2 separate regions of the Homo sapiens genome follow, and region 2 is linked to region 1. Evidence: fine-mapped expression QTL. A gene starts in region 1. The other region holds a variant in brackets. All regions are shown on one strand. Distances are from middle to middle.

Region 1 (5,381 bases):
CCTGGAAGCTGAGATGGTGCCAGTGCACTCCAGGCTGGACAACAGAGTGAGACTCTGTCTCAAAAGAAAAAAAAAGAAAACAAGAAATGTCTTTGGATAAGTTTCATAAAGAGTATTACATACCATAGCTGCACCTACAGCAATTCCAGCAAAGCCCATCTATAAAGTAAAATATAAACATAAGTGAAAATCCATAAAAATGAGGATAATGGACACTAACAGACATGCCCTCCAGGGTCTGCTTCCCACTGGAAGGCTTACCTCTGATATGGGAGTGTCAATAATCCTCTTGTCTCCATATTTCTTCCACAGCCCTCGACTAACCTACAATTAAGAGTTGATCCCTTAAGTGTATCTGGGGGTAACAGTGACCTCAATTTTGTATAACTTTCATATATTTTAGTTACCTTGTATGCCCCATCATACTGGGCAACTTCTTCTCCAAGCAGAAATACCTTCTCATCTCTTTCCAGCTCCTCATCCATACCCTGATTTATAGCATCACGAACTGTCACCTGTCACAGGTATGCAAAAACAGTCAATACAGAATTGTTTGGGATTCAACTAAGATTTTCTTCCTTTATATTTACCTAGGCTGCCCACAGCATACAATATAAAAACACTAGAACAAGCTTCTCTCTAAAAACTCAAAGAATTCTAAAAGTAACATTTCTATTACACATAGTTGGTCTTTGCATGTGTTAATGTACTGAGTGCTCACTAGGTGCCAAGTACTGCCAAATACTTTGCATCCAGAATGTAGGAGTTGCTCTTTTAATATAATGAATGGTAAAATCTAGTTAAAAAAAGGAAGGAGAGGAGAATTAACATACAATCCATCAATTCCACTTCTATGTATATGCCCCAAATAATTGAAAGCAGGGATTCAAGCATATACTTGCACATCAATGTTCACAGCAGCATTACTCACAATAGACAAAACAAGGCCAGGCACGGTGGCTCACACCTGTAATTCCAGCACTCTGGGAGGCCAAGGCAGGTGGATCACTTGAGGTCAGGAGTTCGAGACCACCCTGGCCAACATGGTGAAACCCATTCTCTACTAAAAATACAAAAATTGGCCGGGTGTGGTGGCGGGTGCCTGTAATCCCAGCTACTCGGGAGGCTGAGGCAGAATTGCTTGAACCCAGGAGGCAGAGATTGCAGTGAGCTGAGATAGTGCCACTGCACTCTAGCCTGGGCAGCAAGAGCAAAACTCCGTCTCAAAAAAAAAAAAGAAAATGTCGGGCTGAGCGAGGTGGCTCATGCCTGTAATCCTAGCACTTTGGGAGGCCAAGGCAGGCAGATCACTTGAGGCCAGGAGTTCAAGACCAGCCTGGGCAATATGGTGAGACCCTGTCTGTACTAAAAATACAAAAATTAGCCCGGTGTGGTGGCACCGGCATCTAATCACAGCTACTCAGGAGTGTGAGGCGCGAGAATCCCTTGAGCCCAGGAGGTGGAGGTTGCAGTGAGCTGAGATCGCGCCACTGCACTCCAACCTGGGTGACAGAGGGAGACTATCTCAAAAAAATATACATATATATATTATTCAGCCTTAGGAAAGAATCAAACTCTGACGCATGCTACAACATGGATGAACCTTGAGGACATTACGCTGAGATAAGCCAGACACAAAAGGACAAATGATGCCACTTATAAGAAGTTCTAGAATAGGCAACCTCATAAAGACAGAAAAGTACAACAGGGGTTACCAGGGGTTTGGGGAAGGGAAATGAGGAGTTACCGAGTAATGGACAGTTTCTGCTTGGGATGATTAAAAAGTTCTGGAAATGGATGGTGGTTAATGGTTGTACAACATGGTGAATGTACTTAATGCCACTGAATTATACACTTCTAAAAAGTACATTTTAAGTTAGGTCTATTTTGCTGCAATTTAAAGAAAAAAACATGGAGTGAGGGAGGAAACGCCTAGTCTTAGTTTTCCCCCATTGCCCAGCCAGCTGTGAGGTGGTGACTCGCCGGTGTGCTAATTGCCAGGCGGCGACAGAGGCAGCAGGAGCTCCACGGAGGATGCTGGCTCCGCAAACCCAAGGCCCACGGCGCCGGAAGGCCACAGCGCAGGCGCGACTCCGGCCTCCTTCCCGAGAGAAGGGGGGACCCTCCCCGCCCTCGTCCGACGAGCACCCGCGCCTGTTACCTGCAGCGCAGCCGGCGCGGTCCAGTGAAAGCGCCTCTTCAGCAGCCCGGAGACCTGGCAGGGAGAGAGGAAGATGACGGCGGGACGCAGGGTGGGCAGGGGTCGCGTGGGAATACAGGCCGCGCGCTGCTGCCTACCTCCCGAAGGGGTCTCCGCACCAAGCCAGACACCGCCGCCATCTTGGTCGTGTCCTCTATCCGCTGCCAAACGACAACAGAGGGGCCGGCAGACGTGAGCAGGCCCCGCCTCCACCGGCGCGGGCCAATGGCAAGGCGCGCCGGCTGCGTGACCCGCCCACCCGCCCACCGGGTGAGGGGCCGCGGGGCCGGGCTGAGGTGGCGTGTGGGTGGCCGTGCCCCTCTGCCTGGAGCCGCCTCAAATCAACTTTATTGACAGTAGGCGGTGACCGACAGGCGGGGTGCACGCTGGGCACACGTGCCTGGTCGGTGTTACTTGAAGCGTGGGGACTAGAAGTCAGACCCTGAGGAGCATGATCTCTGGAAGCTGGAGAGACCTTAAGAGTTAGGCCAACCTGTTGTGGGTGCTGGAATCCTTTGGGCACCAAGAAGTGCTTGCACACGCTCTACTGATGGGGAACTTAACACTTCATGAGTGAGTCTAGTCTTCCCTGGACAGTGCTGTCTGTTGATTCCTTATAATGCACATCATAGCTTTCATTGATTGCATTAAGCACCTACTGTGAGCCAAGCATTGAGATATGTGCTGTATAGCTCATTCTCACAGTACCCCACTTGGGTAATTAGTGTTATTATTATCTCCATTTTGAAGACGGTTAAACTGAAGCAGAAATTGATTAAATGAGCCGATATTTTAATTTAGGACTGTCTTGACTCTAAAGCATGGTCTTTTTCCCACTGCTTCCTAAAGCAGAAGTGGATTCCTGCTTGGGGGAAGGTTACAACAACTTTAGAGAAGGGCGGCCCTATGGATGTAGCAGGACAAGCCGCAGACGAAACTCCTCAGACACCGAGTTAAAGAAGGAAGGGGTTTATTCGGCCAGGGGCATGGGCAAGACTCTTGTCTCAAGAGCCGAGCTCCCTGAATGGGCAATTCCTGTCCCTTTTAAGGGCTCACAGCTCTAAGGAGGTGTGCGTGAGAGGGTCATGATTGATTGAGCAAGCAGGGGGTATGTGACTAGGGGCTGCAAGCACCGGTAATTAGACTGGAACAGGATAGGGATTTTCACAGTGCTTTTCTATACAATGTCTGTAATCTATAGTTAACATAACCGATTAGGTCGGGGTCGATCTTTACCAGGCCCAGGGTGTGGCACCAGGCTGTCTGTTTGTGGATTTCATTTCTGCCTTTTAGTTTTTACTTTTTCTTTCTTTGGAGGCAGAAATTGGGCATAAGACAATATGAGGGGTGGTCTCCTCCCTTATGGGGAGGTGCCAAACACTTGGCCATAGGGACAACCTCTGGAAGCTCATTAGTCTTAATTTGGCCCTTGGGGGTCAGATGGGACAATTGAGCACCCAGTCTCCACCCATCCCCAAGACATTCCAAACATTCCCTTCTATGGATCACAGCTGCAGGCTGCCAAATTAGGAATTTGCAACTTCCAGTAGGTTGCTGACTGGGAATGGGAGGGGGTGGAGGCAAAGGCAGAACAGGCGGATGCTGGGAAGTCTGTGGCAGCAACAGAGGCAGACTAGGAGGCAACTTCCAGATGGAGAGGAGGGGGACAGTTTTGAGATCTATTTGGGCTAGAATCAATAGGAATGCTGTAAGTGCTAGGGAAGAGCAGAGGAAAATTTTGGATTTTTGTCATTGCTGGATGGATAGATGGGGTAAGGGAGGAGCCTGGGGCAGTGTAAGTGCCAGGAGCTGGGGAAGTAAGAGTGTATTTTTGTTTATTTTTTGAGATGGAGTTTCACTCTGTCACCCAGGCTGAAGTGCAGTGGGCCTCACTGCAACCTCTGCCTCCCAGGTTCAAGCTATTCCCCTGCTTCAGCCTCCCGAGTAGCTGGGATTACAGGCACCTGCCACCATGCCCGGCTAATTTTTTTTATTTTTAGTAGAGATGAGTTTTCACTATGTTGACCAGGCTGATGTTGAACTCTTGACCTCAAGTGATCCACCCGCCTCAGCCTCCCAAAGTGCTGGGATTACAGGCATGAGCCACTGCAGCCAGCCTTTATTCTTTAGATGACTGGGACATACCCAGGTTGCCTGGAGCCTAGGGCCTAGTCAGGGCTAAAGGTAGAAATTTGGGGACAGCTGCATAGAGATGACATTTACTCTCTGGGACTGTTTCATCTGTAAAATGGATAGAAGATCTTCAAGATATGGAATCAACACCTTCTGAGTCTCCCTCACCTGCCACCATCGTCTAGTCCCAACTGTCCCTGCCAGGGCCTCAGGAATGGCCAGCACTTCCTAGACTGCCACAGCATCCCTGAGAAACTCCTGAACTTGAGATTTCAGCCCCCAAAAGTTTGTGGGTGGTGCTCAGAATGAAAAAGTGAATCAGTCCTTCCCACCTTTCCCACAACCTAGCACCAAAAGATTTCAGGATCAGATTTGCCAAGCAAAAGGAGATGTTACAGGAAAGCAGTCCCGATCGAGATCCCAAGAGAGAGTTCTTGGATCTCACACAAGAAAGAATTCAGGGCAAGTCCACAGTGCAAAGCAAAAGCAAGTTTATTAAGAAAGTAAAGCAATAAAAGAATGGCTACTCTATAGACAGAGCAGCCCTGAGGGCTGCTGATTGCCCATTTTTATGATTATTTCTTGATTTTATACTAAACAAGGGGTGGATTATTCATGCCTCCCCTTTTTAGACCATATAGGGTAACTTCTTGACATTGCCGTGGCATTTATAAACTGTCATGGCGCTGGTGGGAGTGTAGCAGTGAGGATGACCAGAGGTCATGCTCATCGCCGTCTTGGTTTTGGTGGGTTTTGGCCAGCTTCTTTCCTGCAACCTGTTTTATCAGCAAGGTCTTTATGACCTGTATCTTGTGCTGACCTCCTATCTCATCCTGTGACTGAGAATGCCTAACTGTCTGGGAATGCAGCCCTGTAGGTCTCTGCCTCATTTTACCCAGCTCCTATTCAAGATGGAGTTGCTCTGGTTCACATTCCTCTGACATTTGCCTCCTCCCTATTATGAGAGAAACTTTAATCCTAAAAGTTTCGGAGGGATGAAGATGCATCTTCTGTAACTTCTTCAGGCTGAATAGGGGTGATGATATTC
Region 2 (5,381 bases), 40 kb before region 1:
TTGTCAGATAAAGATTTTCAGTGTCTAATCAAACTTCTGCCTTCTTGTTTGGTGAGTATACGTCTTTCTTTTATTCTCAGTGCTGATGATAGAGTCACAGTATTTTTTCTGGGTGAACATGGACAGAAAAGCTGGAAAACAGAATGGGGAGATACAGTGGATTTCAGGTCAGACTGAAATTGTGTAGGGCTAATCTCTTAGATCATAGGCTATTTGAAATGGCATTCATGACATCTGCACAACCCATGAAACATAGTAATTTAAATACAGACTTTGAATTTTAAACAAAGATGAGAGTAGGGAAGCAGCTACTTCTCCCAGCCTGTTGTTCTTGGTGAAGGTATTTATCTCAGTGGAACTGAAAGATACTCTTTCCAGCCTGAGAAAACAGAACTAATGAGGAATTTAGATAAGCTGGGTGAAGAAAAGGCAAAATAGCCATTTTTCTGTCTGAGTTACTACCTTCACAGGCTAACCAGATGACCTTTAGGAATACATGATATTATTTACACGACTACACAGCTCTAATCCAGGGCCTTCAGTGCAAAGAACCACGTTGATATATTTCAAAATATGTGCAGAATGTCTTCAGCAAAGACTAATCTGGCCAGGAAATTGAGTTAACATTGACATTCTTTATCTTGTCTGCATGAAGATGTAGTTCCCTGGAATGAATCACTAGCGAACTGAACACAATTACACTGACTTGTGCACTTGGTTTGGCAAGTTTATTTTTGGCCATATAGTGTCTTGTCAAGCTTGCAAACCAAGCTATTAATGAGGTGCAATGTGAGGCCAAAAAGACGCTTTAGTCTTAGAGCTTGATTGGTTGTGTGACATAGGCTGTCAGGACCTAGTTCTAAATTTCTTTTTTTTTTTTTTCAAGGTGGAGTCTCTCTTTGTCACCCAGGCTGGAATGCAGTGGTGCGATCTCGGCTCACTGCAACCTCCACCTCCTGGGTTCAGGCGATTCTCCTGCCTCAGCCTCCCAAGTAGCTGGGATTACAGGTGCATGCCACCACACCCAGCTAATTTTTGTATTTTTAGTAGAGATGGGGTTTCACCATGTTGGCCGGGCAGATCTTGAACTCCTGACCTCATGATCCGCCTGCCTCGACTTCCCAAAGTGCTGGGATGACAGGTGTGAGCCACCGCACCCGGCCCTAAATTTCTTTTAATAGAAGTGCTTCTTTAAAAAAAGAAGCACATAAAAATGGTGCATATTAATTGTAGCAAAGTCAGAAGGCAGATAAGCAAAAATAAGAAAATAAGCCGAGTGTGGTGGCTCATGCCTGTAATCCCAGCACTTTGGGAGGCTGAGGCGGATGGATCACAAGGTCAGGAGATCGAAACCATCCTGGCTAACATGGTGAAACCCTGTCTCTACTAAAAATAGAAAAAATTAGCTGGACGTGGTGGTGGGCACCTGTGGTCCCAGCTACTAGGAAGGCTGAGGCAGGAGAATGGCGTGAACCCGGGAGGCGGAGCTTGCAGTGAGCCGAGATCGTGCCACTGCACTCCAGCCTGGGCAACAGAGCAGACTCCGTCTCAAAAAAAAAGAAAGAAAAGAAAAGAAAACTCACCAGTAATCCCAGTCAAACAGAAGTATGAACCAAAATATTCAGTTGTTACTTTTTAAGAATTTTTATGATAAAAAAGTAAATTATATATGTAGTGCTTTAAAACCTGATTTTTTTTTCATTAATGGTGTACCATGAGCATCTTTAGTTGTTAGTAAATATAGCATCATTATTATGGGCTGTATAGAATTATCATTGGCTATACCTTAGTTTACTCAATCTTCTATTGACATTTAGATCACCTCCAGCTTTTTGCTCTTATTTTTTAAAAAAGAAAAAAGCCATAATGAACAATTTTTGCTAAACATTATACCCATACTTAATTTCTTAAGGTAAATACCTATAATTAATAACCAATGTGTAAGGAGATATTGTGACACTACATATTCTGTTCTTTATGAAGCCCACTAGCATTTTAACATTTAATGTGATTTTCTAACTCTATTATTCCTTCCGTATTTACTTATTAGTTGGCATTCTACTCTAAAGAGCTTCTCTTCTCCCTTTTAAAAAAATTTATATTAGTATGTACTCAAGGATTTTTATTCTACCCATTGTGTTTCTTTTTGGGGTGATGAAAATGTTCTATAATTAGATTGTATGATGGTTGTATAACTGAATATACTGAAAATCATTGACTTGTACAGTTTAAATGTGTGAATAGTAATGGCATGTGAATTATATCTCAACAAAGCTGTTAAAAAGTCAGCAGCAACCATTTTGATGTGATGATCAGGAGAACTTCATGATCAATTACTCTGTTTTCCTGGGTACACCTTTCCACCCCCCAACCTGCTGCATGCCAGCCTCCAAAATCCCTGCATAGCTCAGCTCCCATGGGTTTAAATTTTCATGATACTCCTTTGAGCTAGTGAACATTGTAATACCTGTCTGGACCCAGTTTGTTTCACGTAACCAGAATTCCAGGGAAAAACAGCACTTTCCTTTCACTCATTAAATAATTTGTCTTTTCTCCACCCCAGTTGCTTAATGTCAGTTTCTCCATCTGAGGAGGACACTGTGAATCTTTATGTTGCAGAATTCTATAGAAGGGTAGGAAGATTCATGCCAGCTACTGTGGAAAGGGCTGAGATTCCAGAAGATGCTACTTTTGCCTGTTTTCTGGCTAGTATGCTTCTTGGCTTGGCACCCAAACAGCAGTGTGGAATGTTAGGCAAAGCTGTGAGCAAAGACACATTGATCCTGGTCTCCATTTGGCTGTTCTGAGATTTGGCTGTATTCTTTACTGACTTACAGAGACAGGATATTAACACTATTATCCTCAAAACTCAGACATTTTATCTCTTCCACCACACTTTTGCCTGAGCTATGAGAGTGCACACACCAAAGAGGACCCCTTC[A/T]CTTGTGGAGTTTACCACATCCATTATCTGTCTCCTGTTTTCCTTTGTTCCTACAGTTTATGTCCCTTCCTCCATCTGAAGAAGGAGGAACTAGCTGGTAACTGAATAACTTGAAAATGCCATGTGTTCAGGGAATATCACTACATTCGTATGCAATTAAACCACCACAGTGCTACTTGACTCTGCATAACCAGATCCTGTATTTAAAAGGACCTAGATCCTGACGCAAATCAATGTGAATTTCTTTTTTGTTTTGACAGCACCCTTACATCTATCGGGTTACCTTTGCCACAGCTAATGAATCCTCAGCGTTGCTAATTAGGATGTTTAACGAAAAGGGAACATTGAAGGATCTGATCTACAAGGTACCTGTGCAAGTTCATGGTCATAAGGAATTCTCAAGTTCCTTTAGAACCTGTTATTGATACTTAGTCTCTAAGACTCCAGAGGCTAGGCCCTGAGGATTTGATGTTAGTTTTGATTTTATTTGGAATTTATTTTTATTCATGCAATAAAAACTCTACTTAGTTTGGTTAAAGAGCATTCCTTTTCCCATGTGAGGAAAGGTTGAACATTTAATAATTATGTCCATTACATGGCAAGCTGTTCTCTTAGGTCAGTTTTTAAGTTTGTGTTTTGCGCTTAACAAAGCAGTTCTGAAGAATTCGAACAATATGCAAGACTTTGGGGTCTGCTAAGGGCAAGACCAGGCACATCTTCACTGGGCTAGAGAAGGGATGGAACCTGGGTCAGCCTCTTTCTATCAACAATGCAGACTGTCGTATTTTAAAAACTCACATCTTGCAGCTGGCCATCTCTGGCGCCCCTAGCCTCTGTAGAATCCTGCCTGGTCAGGGAGTCTGTGTGCAGATATTGGCCCCTCTGCTGCTTTCTTACGTGTTCTTTGTTCTTTTCCAAAGGCAAAACCAAAAGACCCATTTCTAAAGAAGTACTGCAACCCTAAGAAGATTCAGGGCCTGGAACTCCAGCAAATAAAAACATATGGACGGCAAATATTAGAGGTAAGAGGTACTTTTGTTTAAGTTGCATTCAGATTTCATCCAAAATTGCATTATTCACCTGGAAAAGTTCTTAAGTAATATCCAAAATTACTTAAGTTGTCTGATTACTTATAAACTGATTGCATTGTCATATTTTGCCTCAAAAAGTAAATATTTGAGACTAAGGCAACAGTCACTTATGTCTACAAAATTCTTAAAGCTTTAGCTATTGCAATTTAGTGTCTGAGTTTTAAGAACTTTACTGTGTGGATACCAACTTTTATATTATCTTTGGTTGCTCTTTATCCCCATGCCAAGGTTTTTGATTTTGTTATGTCATATGCATAGCCATATGGCTCCCTTACAGAAGTATAACCAACAGTGAGAAGGCTTTCCGACATCACCCTCTAGATCAGGATTCTCCAAGCTTCTGGGATTATGCAACCTTATCAGTAATAACCAATTTAATATCCCAATGTTATGTCTATTTAACTATAAATTATATGCGTGTACTATGCACATACATATATGTGTATGTGTGTATATATATTATATTTGTTTGGATGGAGACAGCATACTAGTAATATATTTTGTATATTATAAGTTAAAAAAATAACATTTTTAAAAAACAACAACTATGAAGAGAAGTTGTAATATTTTCTTCTAGTCCTTAGTGAATTGCTCTGGGCACCCCACTTGCCTATCACTGCTCTAGTTCACCAGGACATTGCAGGGCTATATCTAAGCATCTCTCTTACTGGGTAAGCCACTGATTATTTATATGGCAGCGGAAATATTTACTGCTTTTTCTGGGATCCTGTTGTGTGTTCCTATTAATAAACAGCTAAATATATTTGGAGGAGAGACTGAACTAGAGATGTTTTCTAGTTCAACCCCTTTTTCTGAATTACTGGCAGAAGCACTGATAAGATAGCTTCACTCATCTATGCAGGAGGATCAAGACTTTGCCCTGAAGAGAGCTGGCCTATTGGAATCAGAAAGTGCTTAAAGCAGAGCCTTTTGGCATCAGAGTTATTAATTCCAAGCATATGCAGGCTGCTTCTCTATTCTTTTGAGGAAAGAAAGAACTGATGTTGCATCTCACAGCCTCAAAACTGGAAAGCATTCAGCTTCACTTCCTTTTCCAAACAAATGGGTAGAGGTGGCATTTTTCTTCAGGAATCTTCTCAGTGACCTGTTTGGTTTTGTTTCAAAATATATTGACTAAAAAACAAAGTTTAACTTGTCTTATATCTGAATGAGTTTGGGGAAAATGTAACTTTCCCATATGTTTTGATAGGTACTGAAGTTTCTTCATGACAAGGGATTCCCTTATGGGCATCTTCACGCCTCCAATGTGATGCTCGATGGGGACACTTGCCGGCTGCTGGACCTTGAGAATTCCTTATTGGGCCTGCCTTCCTTCTACCGATCTTATT

Evidence for each region.
Region 2: its variant is fine-mapped to the expression of PDHB in spinal cord (GTEx, PIP above 0.99). The same link has a PIP of 0.9 or more in cerebellum, pituitary, substantia nigra and tibial artery.

What each region holds. Positions count from the first base shown.
Region 1 is chr3:58,431,470-58,436,850 of GRCh38, forward strand. PDHB (pyruvate dehydrogenase E1 subunit beta) reads right to left here and starts at 2,363. Exons shown (of 10, transcript NM_000925.4): 1 at 2,299-2,363; 2 at 2,162-2,215; 3 at 408-515; 4 at 262-324; 5 at 124-159. The coding sequence starts at 2,340. LOC107986092 (a long non-coding RNA gene) reads left to right here and starts at 2,126. Exons shown (of 4, transcript XR_007095933.1): 1 at 2,126-2,773. RefSeq lists enhancers at 2,119-2,338, 3,381-3,990 and a silencer at 2,399-2,638.
Region 2 is chr3:58,391,797-58,397,177 of GRCh38, forward strand. It overlaps PXK (PX domain containing serine/threonine kinase like), which reads left to right. Exons shown (of 18, transcript NM_017771.5): 7 at 1-51; 8 at 3,202-3,306; 9 at 3,862-3,963; 10 at 5,243-5,381. Among named protein-coding and RNA genes, the nearest start is that of PDHB, 39 kb to the right of the region's middle. The variant A/T (reference allele first, on the strand shown) is at 2,942.